2 separate regions of the Homo sapiens genome follow, and region 2 is linked to region 1. The links come from fine-mapping of genetic effects on gene expression. Tissue or cell type: lung. Region 1 holds a variant in brackets; the other region holds the start of a gene. All regions are shown on one strand. Distances are between the middles of the regions.

Region 1 (8,180 bases):
GTAGGTGGGACTACAGACATGCGCCACCACGCCTGGGTAATTTTTAGTAGAGACAGGGTTTCATCCTGTTAGTAGAGACAGGGTTTCACCCTGTTGGCCAGGCTGTTCTGGAACTCCCAGCCTCAAGTGATCTGCCCGCCTTGGCCTCCCAAAACGCCAGGATTACAGGTTTGAGCCACCGCACCCAGCTGACATATGAATATTTAGCTTTCGTAGGTATTGCTGATAAATGAATATTTAGCTTCAGTAGGTACTGCCAAACAGTTTTCACTCTCATCACAAGTGTATGAGAGAGGCGCGGTGGCTCATGCCTGTAATCCTAGCACTTTGGAAGGCCGAGGTGGGCAGATCACTTGAGCCCAGGAGTTCAAGACCAGCCAGGGCAACATGGTGAAACCCTGTCTCTACTAAAAATAGAAACAATTAGCTGGGTGTGGTGGCGTGCACCTGTAGTCCCAGCTAGCTGGGAGGCTGAGGTAGGAGGATCACATGAGCTCAGGAAGTCAAGGCTGCAATGAGCACAGAGCACCCCACTGCCCTCTAGCCTGAGCAACCGAAGAGACGCCATGTCCCCCCCAACCAAAAAAAAAAAAAGGTGTATGGGCAATTCAGTTGCTACATAGTTACCTAGTCTGCCAACATGGTTTTGTCCTTCTAATTACTGATTTGTCTTGATTTGTCAATTACCCTTCTACAAAGAGATACAGATATTTGTTAGTGAATTACAAAACTCCCTGCGATGGAAAATTCTCCATAGACTAACAGTTAAAGGTTTAACTTAAATGTTCGATTCTGACCCTAAAGGTAAAAAGAATTGAAAAATAAGAGAGATCAATGTAGACATGGAGAGAATTGAACCTTTGGAAAGGTTGAAATATGCTGGGCTTTGACCTGTCGGTGGTATTTGAATAGAGGGAGAGGAAAAGGGAAGACAGAGCTTAAGCAAAGAGAAGTGGGAAAGAGTTGGGACTAGAGCAGGAAGAAAGATGAACTAACTTGGCAGTGGGTGACCCTGGGGAGGAGCAGGGCATGTGGTTGGATTGGTAAGGACCAGCCAGCCTCGGGGACTTTGAAGTCAAGGAGTGGGCTTGGGATTTGGGTGATTGGGGTGGAGGAGGGGAATGGGGTGTTACCAAGTGCATACAGCCCCGAGTAGGAGTGAGATATATTAGATGAGAGTCAACTGGTCTCTCACCCAGTCTGTTTCCTCCTATTTCTCACAGTGAGGAGTATCTTACTGTGATGAGTGTGATAGGTATTTTTCTTTCATAGGGCCACTGAATGCAAGGAAGCTACTTCATGTGTTTCCCAGCTGAAGAAATAGATATGTTCCTGTGCTGAAGAGAAAACCAGATGTGCCAGATTAACTGAGAAATTGAATATCTGCATATGGTCCTGTATAGGCATTTTAAGGACTTTTCAGGGGGCAAATCTTGACTTTATGTGATTTATACTGCAGGAGATGACTTCACCAAATTAGAAGTTTTTGTGGCAGGTGTGCATGTACAAAGAGATGAACATAAGTCGGGGCTGCAGGCTCTGAGAACAAAGAGAAATAGCTTCACTTCTCCTGGTCTCCTTCTAGAGCTCCCAATGTCAGGGCCCATTTGTCTCTCCACCTGTGGACTCCGCCCTGCACTATTCATTTGCCTATTCACTTATTCATTCGGCAAACTTTCTTTTTTAAATTTAATTTTATCTTATTATTTTAAGTTCTGGGGTACATGTGCAGGGTGTGCAGGTTTGCTACATAGGTAAACGTGTGCCATAGTGGTTTGCTGCACCTATCAAGCCATCACCTAGGTATTAAGCCCCACATGCATTAGCTATTTATCCTGATGCTAAATAGCTCACCACCCCACTGCAGGCCCCAGTGTGTGTTGTTCCCCTCCCTGTGTCCATGTGTTCTCATTGTTCAGCTCCCATTTATAAGCGAGAACATGTGGTGTTTGGTTTTCTGCTCCTGTGTTTGTTTGCTGAGGATAATGGCTTCCAGCTCCATCCATGTCCTTGCAAAGGACATTATTTCATTCCTTTTTCTGGCTGCATAGTATTCCATGGTGTATATGTACCACATTTTCTTCATCCACTGTCATTGATGGGCATTTGAGTTGATTCCATGTCTTTGCTATTGTGAACAGTGCTCATTTAGCAAACTTTCACTGGATGCCTAGTGAAGGGCCAATCATTGAAATTTAAGATAAAAACACAGGGTTTCTGCCTTCAAGGAGCTGCCAGACAAGCAGAGAACACTAACTTGGAAGAGTTGGATGCAAAGAAGGTGTAAAAAGTGCTATAATAAAAGTAATGCATAGGACAGTAGGGCACATCGATTTTATCTGAGAATGTCCAGGAAATGTGTGAGCTGAGTCTTGAAGGATTACTTTGGAGTCCACCTGGTAGACAAGGTCGAGCAAGGGCCTTACAAGCAAAAGGGAGCAAGCCACAGTATGGCAGGAAGACTCCAAATCCTGTGGGCAGAGCATAGAGTTTGTGTGCAGAAGCAGCTACAGATGAGGCTGAGAAGTAGCCGGGGTCAGATTACGAAGGGTTGCAAACACCAAGTGAATGAATATGGACTTTACTGGGTGGACAGTGGGAGGCAGCACTACAGGATTTGAGCCAGAATGTTACAGTTCAGCAATGAGAAACACTGCACTGGTACCGGTGTGAAGGACAAAGCACAGGGAGTGAGCCTAGATACAGGAAGATCAGTTTGAAGGTTATTACATTAGACCTGGCAAAAGAAGATGCAAGCTTAAAATGAGCCCAGGACAGTGATAATGGAGAAAAGGAAATAAGTATTTAGGAGGTAAATTCTACAGGACTTAATGAGATTGGAGGAGGTCAGGGAAAGCCAGGGGGAAGAATTTGGATGACCCCATATATTGTCTGGGTGGATGATGGTACTGTTATTTAGGAGAGGAAAGATAGGAAAAAAGGAAGGTTTGGGCAGGACAAGAGAAGGAAGAGATGGAGGAAATGAGTTTAATTTTTGTCGTTTGAGCTTCTAATTTAGTGAAGTCATCCCATACTGTATAAATCACATAAAGTTAAAATTAGCCCCCTGAAAATTCCTTAAAATGCCTATATAAGACAGTGTGCAGATATTCAATTTCTCAATTAATCTGGCACTTTTGGTTTTCAGCACAGGAACAGATCTTACTTACCATTCAGTACTTATTTACTTACTTATTGTTCAATGCTCTTCCCAGATCTAAGTGTCTATGAAATATGTAAGTAGCCCTACAGTGTGACTTTCGGAAAGATTGTTGAGCTAGAGATGTAGATTTCAAATCATTAGAAGTGATTAAGGAATCATGAAGTCTGGAACAACCAGGAAGGACTGTGTGAGGTGAGAAGAAATTAGAGACAAGAACAACGCCATGGAGAACCCCAGTCTTTAAGGGGTGTGTGATGAAATGGCACCCCAGTGAAGGAGGTAGAGGAGCAATTTCAAAGATGAGAACTCGGCCGGGCGCGGTGGCTCACAGATATAATCCCAGCACTTTGAGAGGCCGAGGCGGGCAGATCACTTGAGGTCAGGAGTTCAAGACCAGCCTGTCCAACCTGGCGAAACCCCGTCTCTACTAAAACTACAAAATTAGCCGGGCATGGTGGCGGGTGACTGTAATCCCAGCTACTCAGGAGACTGAGGCAGAAGAATCACTTGAACCCAGGAGGCAGAGGTTACAGTGAGCTAAGATCAGGCCATTGCACTCCAGCCTGGGCAAAAAGAGTGAAACTCTGTCTCAGAAAAAAAAAAAAAAAGATGGGAATTCTTAAGCCAGAAGAAGCTCTTAACTGTGTGAGGGTGATTTCTTATTCGTGGTGGATCCACTCTATATAGAAAAGTGTCCAGCTCATAGTTGTTGCATGAATGAATAAACAAACGAAGAGACTGGTGTCATAAAGATAAGTAGGCATTTCCAGAA[G/A]GTACATACTCCAGTGCTGGAGGGAGGCCAATGATGCAAGATGAGAACGAAGTGTTCCCAGACAGATCTGCAGTTGAAACAGGAAGCACTAAAACAGCCTCAGCTGCCAGCCATCTTGAAGGGCGCAGCCTGAGTCACTCTCCTCCCCATTAGGACCTGGGGTGGGACCAGGGGATGCTCTTTCTTTCCTTTTTTTTTTTTTTTTTTTTTTTTTTTGCGTCTCACACTGTCACCAGGCTGGAGTGCAATGGCACGATCTCGGCTCACTGCAACCTCCACCTCCCAGGTTCAAGCGATTCTCCTGCCTCAGCCTCCTGAGTAGCTGAGATTACAGGCGCGTGCCACCACGCCCGGCTAGTTTTTGTATTTTTAGTAGAGACGGTGTTTCACCATATTGGTCTGGCTGGTCTCAAACTCCTGACCTCGTGATCCACCTGCCCAGCCTCCCAAAGTGCTGGGATTACAGGCGTGAGCCACCACGCCTGGCCGGGATGCTCTTTCTATAGTGGCTCTCTCCCACAAGCCCTCCCCTACTTCCACCCTGATGTCCTGGAGCTGAACCTCTGCCCTTAATCCAACTCCCAAGTTCTTACTTTGGTACATGGTTGTATTAGTTATCTATTGCTGTGTAAAAAATTACTTCTAAACATAATGGTTTAAAACAGCACGTATTTATTATTGCAGTTTCTGGGGTCAGGAATCTGGACAGGATCCCTTAGCTGGGATCTCTGTTTCAGGATGTCTCACAAGGCTGCCATCAAATTTTCAACTGAGTCAGGATCCATTTGCAACTCACTCAGTGGTTCCTCAGGGGTTACTGAACCGAAGGCCTCAATTCCTTTTAAGCTGTTGGCCACAGCCTGGCCTCAGTACCTAACCATAGGGGCTTCTCCAGCATGGCAGCTTGCCTCATCAAAGCTAGCAAGAGGCTAGGCATGGCAGTTCACACCTGTAACGCCAGCCCTTTGCGGGACTGAGATAGAAGGATCACTTGAGCCAAGGAATTCAAGAACAACCTGGATAACACAGCAAGCCCTCATCTCTACAAAATTTAAGAATTTTAGCTGGGCATGATGGCACAAGTGCATGTGGTCCCAGCTACTTGGGAGGCTGAGGTAGGAGGACGACTTGAGCCCAGAAGGACAAGGCTGCAGTGAGCCATGATGGCACCAGTGCACTCCAGCCTGGGCAACAGAGCGAGACACTGTTAAAAAAAAAAAAATCTAGCAAGAGACTCGAAGAGAGTTTGCGAGCAAGAGTGAAGTCACAACCTTTTGTAACCAAATCAAGAAAGTGAGACCAGGCGCAGTGGCTCACACCTATAATCCTAGCACTTTGGGAGGCCCAGGCAGGTGGATTGCCTGAGCTCAGGAGTTCAAGACCAGCGTGGGCAACACAGTGAAAACCCATCTCTACTAAAATACAAAAAACTAGTAGGGCATGGCGGCGTGTGCCTGTAGTCCCAGCTACTCAGAGGCAGGAGAATTGCTTGAACTCGGGAAGCAGAGGTTGCAGTGAGGTGAGATCATGCCACTGCACTCCAGCCTGAGTGGTCCCCAATGAGCCCCGCCTCCAGGCACTCACCCCTGTGTGATTTGCTCACTGTGAATGTGGGCTGCACCTGGTGACTTATCTGTAACTCATAGAATATGACAATGATGACCAGATGTCACTTTTTTTTTTTTTGAGGTAGAGTCTCACTCTGCCACTCAGGCTGGAGTACAGTGGAGCAATCTTGGCTCACTGCAACCTCCGCCTCCTGGGTTCAAGTGATGCTAATGCCTCAGCCTCCTCCCAAGTAGCTGGGGTTACAGGCATGTGCCACCACGCCCAGCTAATTTTTATATTTTTAGTAAAGACAGGGCTTTACCATATTGGCCAGGTTGGTCTCGAACTCCTGGTCTCAAGTGATCTGCCCACCTCAGCCTCCCAAAGTGCTGGGATTACAGGCATGAACCACCGTGCCCAGCCCAAACTTTCCCTAAACTTAAGATTTGCTCTGCTGAAGATAATTCTTCTGACAGTTGTCTTCACCACCTTGGTTGAACCAAGACAGAAAAATCTCATAACCTTAGATGTCCCTGTACTAATAATAGCTAATGCTTCTATAGCGCCAATTACATGCCAGGCTTTGCATGAGCTTTCTATGAACTTTACAAATAGTAACTCATTTAATCCTCATAACAATTTTCCGAAGTAGAGGCTCTCATTAACTTATTTTACAGACAAAGCAACTGAGCCACAGAGAAGCAAGTACTATATCTTGCCAAAGGTAACACAGCTATTGAGTGGTGGAAGTAGGATTTGGGAGCTGGGAGTTTGGTTCCAGAATTCCTGATGTGAACCATTATGCTATTCAATAACCCACATATAAGCTGGAATACAATACTGTCCAGTCTGGCACACTGTGACATTAAAATAAAACATTAAAAACATAGGCCAGGCAGGGTGGCTCAAGCCTGTAATCTCAGCACTTTGGGAGGCCGAGGTGGGCGGATCATGAGGTCAAGAGATCGAGACCATCCTGGCTAACACGGTGAAACCCCGTCTCTATTAAAAGTACAAAAAATTAGCCGGGCGTGGTGGCAGGCGCCTGTAGTCCTATCTGCTCGGGAGGCTGAGGCAGGAGAATGGCGTGAACCCAGGAGGCGGAGCTTGCAGTGAGCTGAGATCGCGCCACTGCACTCCAGCCTGGGCGACAGAGTGAGACTCCGTCTCAAAAAAACAAAAACAAACAAACAAAAAAAAACATAGCTAAGCAACCAAAACAAAATTCCAACATTTAATTGGCATTAAAAAAGATTTAACCTATAACCTACAGCAGCACATTTTGGTTCTCAGAGCCCTTCATTTGGTAGCTTTCCTCTACGAATGTTCCCTGAAACCCAGCCCAGATTATTTTTTATTTTCTTTTTTCCATACTTCTCTCTTAGCTCCTTATGATATAAATTGACTTTGTCTTCTGGCTTCATTCTTTAGTATCCTGTTCATGTAGCCCCTTTTTATACACAAAAGGGTGATCCTAGAATTGACCCAAGCCACCAGGAATTTTACCCCTTGTCCTCCTAACTCTCAAGTCTGCCTTCTCTATGTCTATTTCTGTATCATAAGAAAAACAGAGAACCAGCAAAGACAGAATTCTCTTTGGAGAGTAGGGAAGAGGGAGAAGCTGAGCAAATTAGGAGAACTTCTCTTTAGCTGCTGGGGATGGAGGAGAGAAAAGACGGTCGAATGGGAACACATAGCTAATTATCCTTGTCTTTGTCACATTCCCAGAGATGCATGACTGAGGTGCTATGTCCTTATCATTGCAGACAGGGGGCCAGGCAGAGTGGGGCTGACCCAACAGCACAGAGGGCCTTGGGCGTGGCAGGGAAGCTTACTTCTGCAATCCAGCTCAGCCTGGTGTTTCCTCTGAAGCAGCGAACGGGGGGGGGGAAAGCTCATGGAGGGCCGGGGAGGGTGGCAGATGCCTCCAGCTCTCCAAGCCCTGCTGCCAGCCTCAGACCCAGGATCCACGCTTTGCTTCCAAGCCCGGAGTCTGTTCACAGAAAGGCTGTGAGAGCCACTCCAGGAAAGATTAGAGCCACACTTCACTTTCTCTCAAGGTAAAACAAGGGAACAGACTTTTAAATCCTGGATGTGATGGCCACCTCAGCAAAGCATCTCCATAGGCCCTCTATCCATTCCTGCTGCCCACAGTCATTCATAATTTCTGCCCAGACTCACTTCAACTGTCCATGAAGTCACCCCCAACTTTCCACCTCTCTCCAGTCTCGGTCCAGGTCACATGCCACTGTCAGTCTAATCTTCCCAAATACCAGTCTGATCACACCATTTCCCCACTCAAAATTCCTCAGTTACTCCCCTTTCCCTGTAAGTTCCTTGCCTAGACCTCAAAAGCCTCGAAGCTCCCTTTCTACACATGTTTTTCTTTTCTTCTTCTTCTTTTTTTTTTTTTGAGACAGTCTCCGTCACCCAGGCTGGAGTGCAATGGCCTGATCTCGGCTCACTGTGACCTCTGCCTCCTAGGTTCAAGCAATTCTCCTGCCTCCGCCTTCTGAGGAGCTGGTACTACAGGCATATGCAGGCATATGCCACCACATCTGGCTAATTTTTGTGTTTTCAGTAGAGACAGGGTTTCATCATGTTGGCCAGGCTGGTCTTGGACTCCTGACCTCAAGTGATCTGCCCGCTTCAGCCTCCCAAAGTGCTGGGATTACAGGGGTCAGCCATCACGCCCAG
Region 2 (8,180 bases), 48 kb before region 1:
CAACTGGGTCCCCAAAGAATGAGGCTCCTGGCCACTAATACTAGGCAAGCTACTCTGCTGGTGCCAGCCTTCTGCTCCTGAGAAAGAAGCAGGTAATATTCTAAAATCCTTATGAGCAGAATTTCTTGACATTTTGTCTCCATTATAGTAACCTTAAGGTGGCTCTCCATTTTTCAGAAAGACACAGGAAATGCAGCTACTTCTGATGAGTTCAACTGCATTGACAAAAAATGGACTAATTTAGAAAAAACAATCTAACAGGGCCCACAACCTATAGATGGTTGCCTACTGGATATGGTTTGAAAAATTATACTGAAAACCCACAATCTTGGTATATTTTTGCCCAGCAAGTTGCTTGGAATTCTGACCAATAAGGAGCACATATTTTGCATAAAACTTTGATTTGCCTGATTGCCCCACTTAAAAATTCAAATGGTAACTATATATAACATTTCAAGGAACTCCTAGATATGTTATCTTGCTGGAACCTACTTACTATACCAGGGAGTGACATAATTCATTAAACGATTATTGTCTATTAACATCCTAATTTTAATTAGTTTTCCAGAGATGGAGAAAACAAGCCCTGAGAGAATAAGACCTGGAAAGTGGCACATTTGGATTGAAGGGGAGGTAAAAACCAATTGGAAACATGGCCAGGGTGGAGCCGGTGAGGCTCTGTGGTCCCACAGACACCTCTGAACTGACACCTGCACCCATACAGGTGCTGAGGGAGAGCTAAGGAGCCACAGACAGGAAGGACAGAAGTCACAACGACAAACTTCACCCACTCATGCTTTTGCCTGGGCCTGACCTGGAAGTCCTAATTAAAAGACCCTGGACTGCCAGATAGACTCATCCCAGTGCTGGGAATGCACACATGCTATTTCTTGAAAGAACAACTTGGCTGTCCCCCAGAACAGAGTGCCCAGTGTGTACACTGGGATTCCTTTCAATAATTAGAATCCTCTACTTATGCCAGATATTAATCGGGAAAAAAAGGAAGCTTTAGTTTTGAAACATCCCTTCTCACTCATTAGCACAATCCTTTAATAATGCACCTTGGAGGCCCTGAGTAATTCTTCTAGTTTGCTGCCCCGCAGCATGTCTGGGTTCCAAGGATTCGCTTGGAAGGTGCTGGATACCCTATCCTCGCTGGAGCTGGGAGTGTCCAGAAGCAGCCTCTTTCTTTACCTTTGAGCCTCTGTTGCTGTGTTCCCTGAGCCTCCCAAGCCTCATCCTACTCTCGGACTTGGTGGTCAGGTGGCATGGGGCCATCCCCATCCTCTCTTTGGCCCTTACTGTCCTTATCTGTCAAGTGAATGGTTTTGATTTCACTGGTTTTCATCCCTAGCTGCACATTAGACTCACCTGGGGAACTTTAAAAACCAATCCCAGGGCTGCACACCTGGGGATTCTGATTTAATTGGTCCAGGGTGGGGCCTAGTCACTGATTTTTTTTTTTTTTTTTTTTTTTTTGAGACGGAGTCTTGCTCTGCCACCCAGGCAGGAGTGCAGTGGCACGATCTCCGCTCACTGCAACCTCTGCCTCCCAGATTCAAGCGATTTTCCTGCCTCAGCCTCCCAAGTAGCTGGGATTACAGGCGCTCACCACAATGCCCAGAATAATTTTTGTATTTTAGTAAAGATGAGGTTTCACCATGTTGGTCAAGCTGGTCTCGAACTCCTGACCTTAGGTGATCCACCCGCCTCAGCCTCTCAAAGTGCTGGGGTTACAGGCATGAGCCACCATGCCCTGCCCCAGTCACTGATTTTTTTTTTCTTTTTTAAGTTCTCCAGGCCCCACAACCACTAGGTTAGATTATCTCCAGGGACCCTCCCAGTTCTATAAAAGTCTATGATCCTTACTGTCTGGTCTCTGTGCTTTACTGAATTTATTTTTTTCTCCATAAATACTCATCTTTTATGTTCAGCATGTTACATAGGCTGATTTTTAGAAATGCTTTTACTTATTTAAAAATTATATTGTTGGTTAGGCACAGTGGCTCACACCTGTAATCCCAGCACTTTGGGAGGCCAAGGCAGGCAGATCGCTTGAGCTCAGGAGTTTGGGACTAGCCTGGGCAACATAGCAAAACCCCATCTCTACAGCTGGGTGTGGTGGCACAAGTCTGTGTTCCCAGCTACTTGGGAGGCTGAGGTGGGAGGATTGCTTGAGCCTGGGAGGCAGAGGCTGCAGTGAGCCGAGATCGTGCTACTGCACTCCAGCCTGGGTGACAGAGTGAGATCCTATCTCAAAAAAATAAAAATAAAAATAATGTGGTTAAAGTATTGTTTGTTGGGAGTAATCAGCTATAATACTGAATGTTTAAAGTACACAATTTGATAAATCTTCCCATATAAGAAATGGTCACAGTCACAATAATGAACATATCCATCACCCTCAAAAGTTTCCTGTGTACCTTGGGAGTCCCCCCAAACATTTTTTCTCCTGCCCCTACCTTCCCAAGTAACCATGGATCTTCTTTCTTTCTTTTTTTTTTTTTTCTTAAGACAGAATCTTGCTCTGTCGCCCAGGCTGGAGCGCAGTGGTACAATCTCAGCTCACTGCAACCTCCGCCTCCCGGGTTCAAGCAATTATCCTGTCTCAGCCTCCCGAGTAGCTGGGATTACAGGTGCCCACCACCAAGCCCGCCTAATTTTTGTATTTTTAGTAGAGACGGGGTTTCACTATATTGGCCAGGCTGGTCTCAAACTCCTGACCTCAAGTGATCCGCTCACCTCGGCCTCCCAAAGTGCTGGGATTACAGGCGTGGGCCACCGCACCCAGCCACTTTCTTTTTGCTATAGATTAGTTTGCATTTTCTATCATTTTATACAAATGTAATCACTCAACACATCCTATTTTGTGCATGGACATAACATCTAATTATCTCCCTGGACTTTAGATTTCAAGCTCTTTGAGAACAAGATCCATTTTTTCTTTTCTCTTCCTCTTGGCCTTCAACTTATCTTTTCTCAGATATAGCCCTTAATCATTATTTGCTTGATTGACATAAGACCTTCATGAACTTAAAACCAAGCTTCAGTTTGGTGGCTAAGAAGTGCCTGCCACGTTGAAGGTTTTTAACTCGCCACCACTTCTGGAGAGGTTCCTCAGTCGGCAGCTTCAGCCCAGTTAAAAAAAAATAATAATAAGCATATGAGCTTCATTTAGGTCCGTGGACTTCTAGGAGTCCAGAAAGTGAGAGTCAAGGTGTGGGTTGGGGTGTGGGGTGGAAGGGGAGGCTCAGGAAGCGAGGAATGAATACCTGAGAAAGGTCCTTGGCTTTCACCAGATTCTTGATACAAAGGGATAGACTATGGAATTAATGCCCTGCTCTATTCCTATCTGCTTTTCATGAATCTGTTGTTTAATTATAAATCCTTTACTATCTGCTCCTCCCTTCTCCTCCCTTCCCACCTCCCCAGCACCTTCGTTTTGTTCTCTGCCTGCCCTGGTTATACTTAACCTTACTTAACTAAACACACTACAGGGCCCTGTCCAGTAGCAGTGCCACTTCATGGGAACTGTTTGCATTCCTTTTCTCTTTAAGAGCTTCTTATCTGAACTATGTGATAGATTGTACCTTTTTATTCAATGATTCTTATTCCACTTTACTTAACAGTTTACCCTGAATACTTGGATGCCACTCACATATCACAAACCTATACTTTCTCTAAACCCCAGAGCCTGGGATTCCTTTTCATCTCAAAAAAAAAAAATCACTGTTTTTGTTGTTATAAATAAGTATTATGAGAACCAGAAGTAACAATAAACTGCAAATTCAAAATCAAGCCACTTCTCCATCCAGAGACAGCTCCCTCACTTCCCCTTGTCAAACACAAAACATATTTTAAAACGATATTATGTCTGATTTTAGATAAAAGTCTGGGATGTAGAATAACAATAATCTGCTTCTAAATGAGAAAATCATAGGCATCTGACAAATGCTGGTTTCAAAGTTATCTTTCCAAAATAGAAGCGAGTAAGAAAAACATCTCACCTGCTTGGCCAAAAGACCAACACCAACTCCCCTTCCTCCAAATTCCCCTCGACCCCATGCAGTTTTGTTTGTAAGGGACTGATGTCTTACACCCAGCAGCATTTCCTAGCTTCTGCTTGGGGGTAAGCTTGTCATTCCTATTCTCCCTTTCACCTCTACCGTTTTCCAACAGATGAGCAAATACGGTAACGATAGCATTTTGGTCTAGTTCCTGCACAAACTCATTCCTCTGCATAAAAGGCAGACCTTTGAAAGGTACTTACGTGGAAGAGGCAAAGGCAAGCGCAAGCCCTGGGTTTGGAAGCTGTGTTTGCTGATGCCAGCCTGCTTAAATAGCTGGGCTGGCTGACGCAGGCTGCTGATAGCACGTTTATTTACGCCTATGAGCACACACTCGAGCAAGGACCTGAAAAACCTGCAGCGTGGGCAGGAGGTAAACCACTGAAAGTATGCCGAGGTTACGTCTCTCCTGGTTATTCAGGTTTGATGTTCAGGCTGGGACTTCTGAGAGTCTCATGGAACTTTCTCGTCACTATCTTCTCGTCCCTGACCTCTCTCCTAGCCAAGCAAGCTTCTTCACCAAGATAGGATAAGAGAGATGTGGCTGAGAGAAGACGGGGAAGAGAAAAGGGACCCTGAGTCTTCTCATCCACTTCCTTACTTTGAGCGAGTTTCCAGTTAGATGTTGCCTCATTTCAAAGCGTAGATCTGGTGCGGTTGATTTCACAGCTCTGAGAGCTGGATGCCAAGCTAAGAGCCTGGACAATTGCCCAATTAATGAAAGGTTGTTTTCTTTTGGGCACAGAATGTACACATAAAGAACAGTTAAAAGGGAGAGATTCGGGCTAGGATGATACAGTTTTAGGTCTCCCTCAAAAACGATTCTCATTTATTTCCCCTGCATCTGTACTTTCCTCTTACCATCCCCTCCCCTTCGTTAATGAAATTCCTGTCTAAGAGGTGAAAGATTCCCCATGGGCTTGCGAATAAAAAGCCAGTGTGTGAGCAAGTCTGTGGGAAGATGCATGCAGAGTGTGACAGAGAGTTTAGGGGCTCGTGTGACAATCCGTGGAAATGTTTCTAAAGGCGAGGGTATGTGTGTGGGTGTGAGGACCCGGCTGTTGGATGTTTACGTATTTTATTAGCTAGATACGGGAGCTAATACTCAATTGCAGTGCACTAAACATTATTAGGTGGGTATGATTTTGAGGGAATGAGGGAAGGGAGACAAGGTCTGGTGAGATCATCTGTGGGATTATCTGTGTGTATTTGCTGGTTTGTAGCACAAACCGGTAAGTGCCATCCAGAGAGCCACACCCTATATTATTCACTTCAGCAGAGAAAGAGAAAGCCCACTTGAGTCTCTTGGGAACAGTAGCCATATGTGAAAGAAGAGCAGCGCTCATTCAGAATACCTCTTTCCCTCTTGGAAAAGGGGGTGACGGTTATAAAACATGTGTGGGAAAGAGTAGAGACAGGGGGCCCAGGTTAACCCAACCTTGGTTACCAGAGGAATTCTTTTGTTTCCTGCCTAATTCAATGCCTAACTTCTGACCATTCTATGGCCAAATCTGGATTCTTGCTGCCACGATTTTTTGAATGGGCAGGGTCTATGTCTTGTTTATCATTTGATACCCACAGCATTATTATTATTATTGTTGTTGCACAAATTATTACTATGACAGCACAAATTATTATGATGATGACAATGGTGATGATCCATAATCTAGTAAGACTGACTGTGTGTCAGGCTCCATGTAAGGACTGTACAGAGAGTTTGTCTGCTTATTTAATATGTAATACAATAACCCTATGAGGTTGTATTGTTTTTTGTTTTTCACTCAGGCTGGAGTGCAGTGACACGATCTTGGCTCACTGCAGCCTTGACCTCCCGGGCTGAGGTGATTCTCCCACCTCAGCCTCCCAAGTAGCTGGGACCACAGGCACACACCACCAGAAGTGGCTAATTTTTTGTAAAGACAGTATTACACCATGTTGCCCAGGCTGGTCTCAAACTCCTGGGCTCAAGGGATCCTCCTGCCTCAGCCTCCCAAAGTGCTGGGATTACAGCCGTGAGCCACCATGCCCGGCTGAGTTAGTTTTTTTTATTATCGTTATTTTACAGAAGAGGAAACTGATACTCAGAAAGACTAAATAACTTTCCCAAGGTCACAGTGAATGGTGGGGGTGGAATTTGAATCCAGTTCTATCTGATTCCAGAGTCAGGGTTTCACTCAGGACTGGCTTGAACCAATACTTAGAAAGTTGCCTAAGAGTGTTTTCACCTATCCTTAATTGTGTTTTTGTTTATCATCTGTCTTCCAGAATGTGATTTCCATGACAACAATGACCTTTCTGCATTGTTTACTCCTGTGATCCAGAACAGTGCCTGGCACTTGGTAGGTGCTCAATAAATATGTGCCATCTGTTCAGTTTCTAAATTCCCGTGGAGGCAGTACAGCCCAACAGATAGAGGTCCTGGCATCAACAGAGTCTCATCCTGGTTCAGATGAGACATTTCTTTTTCTCTTGCATAATGTGTCAACTTCAAGCTGTTTCTCTTTATCCGGTGTATCATGGAGATTAAAGAAAAAGTGATTGAAACCATGAAGCAGTTTTTACATCACTTGACTCTGCAGGTAGCAGGTATATGGTTCCGGTTGATTGGGGGTGCAGTGATGAAACCAAGACCTCTAGCTTTTTCCATCTTTCATTTTGTAGCTCTCAGTGTGACAGCATTGTCTCTCCTCATGGTGGTAAGATGGCTACAGTAGCTCCATTCATCATATCTTTAAACAAAATATCCAAAGACAGGTAAAAAGTGTCCCAGGCTTTCTTTCTCCTAAGTGTCTTTCCTTGTTAGAGAGGAAAACCTTTTCAGAAATCACTAGGAGTCTTTCACTTATGTCTCCTTGCTGAGCACTGGGTTGTGTCAGCCAACACATTGGCTAAATCCATCATTTTCAAAGAGGAAAGGGATCAGGCTGATCATGGTTCCTCTCCTGGGTCTAAGGGAAGAATCCACCTTCTCCAGACAAATTGCTCTGATCATCTGAACAAAATCAAGATTCATTTATTAGTGAAGAAGCAGAAATGTGCTACCCACAGTTTTGCCAATCTAAGAGATCCTTTAAAATACAATAACCTAAACTTCTTTCATGCTTGGGCACCAGTCCAGCCATGGCAATTGGGTTTTACTATATCAGTTCTCTCTTTCTATGCTTTTTTTTTTTTTTTTCCCAGTGAGATAAGTTTGCTTTGGCTCTCAGTAAAATTAAGAGTATTTCAACAGCCTGCAAATAAGGGAGGTAGCTGGCCACTAATTTTTTTCCTGCAGGTTTAGATCCTAGGTCTTTATATCACCACCGATTTCCAGGGACTATCACACAATCTGTCAGCCTCTTGTCTTCTCCTGTGCCAGATGGGATTGGATGATGCTGTTGATTTCTTAGAGAAGTTGGGTCCAATAACACAACTAATTATAAAAACATGACTCATTTTCCTGCTCCTCCTGTTGTCTATTATATTTCAGTGGAATTCCAGGATCCCACATGTTTGCCTCTGCCTCTGCCTGAGAGCTCCAGCTAGTGCCTGGGTTATGTAAACTAGAGACATATGGCTGAGATGGTAATTCTCACATAGTTCTTTTTCCCCTGGTGATTAACAAACTTCAAATTACCACCCACAGTAAGTGTTATTTTTCTTCTATTTGCTGTTCTAAACCTTTTCCTTGCCACAGGTTTTGGGAACTCTTTTCTTCAATGGCTCAAATCAAGAGAATTAGGAGGAAGAATGGGGTCGTGGGATGTTCCTCCGCAAGAGAGGAACAATGCCTGGGGGAGGAAAGGGCTTCAGTAAGTGTTTACTGTGACTGGACAAATGGTGGAAAGGAAAGAGTGTGGGCTTCTCAATCCTGCAGACTTGCATGAGGTCCCACTACTTCTGCTTACCACCAATTTGATCAAGGGTAACTTATATAACTTCTCTCTGTTTCCTCATCTGTAATATGGGACTGATGAGAATTATCTCACAAGTTCGTTGTAAGGACTAAAGATATGTAAAGCACTTACATAATACCCAGAACATAGTAGGCGCTCCATAAATGGGTAGCTACTGCTAATAGTTACAAGAAGAAGCTGGATTTTCCTATCCTTGGTCATCTTTGTGGAACCC

The links. PIP is the estimated chance that this variant, and not a neighbour inherited with it, causes the effect.
Region 2: it holds the start of HOPX, and the variant in region 1 is fine-mapped to the expression of HOPX in lung (TOPMed, PIP 0.96).

The regions. Positions count from the first base shown.
Region 1 is chr4:56,724,760-56,732,939 of GRCh38, forward strand. No RefSeq gene overlaps it. Among named protein-coding and RNA genes, the nearest start is that of CHAER1, 24 kb to the left of the region's middle. The variant G/A (reference allele first, on the strand shown) is at 3,936.
Region 2 is chr4:56,676,985-56,685,164 of GRCh38, forward strand. It overlaps HOPX (HOP homeobox), which reads right to left and starts at 4,312. Exons shown (of 4, transcript NM_032495.6): 1 at 4,271-4,312. LOC105377666 (a long non-coding RNA gene) reads left to right here and starts at 6,249. Exons shown (of 3, transcript XR_941078.3): 1 at 6,249-6,406; 2 at 7,540-7,694. RefSeq lists a silencer at 4,310-4,359.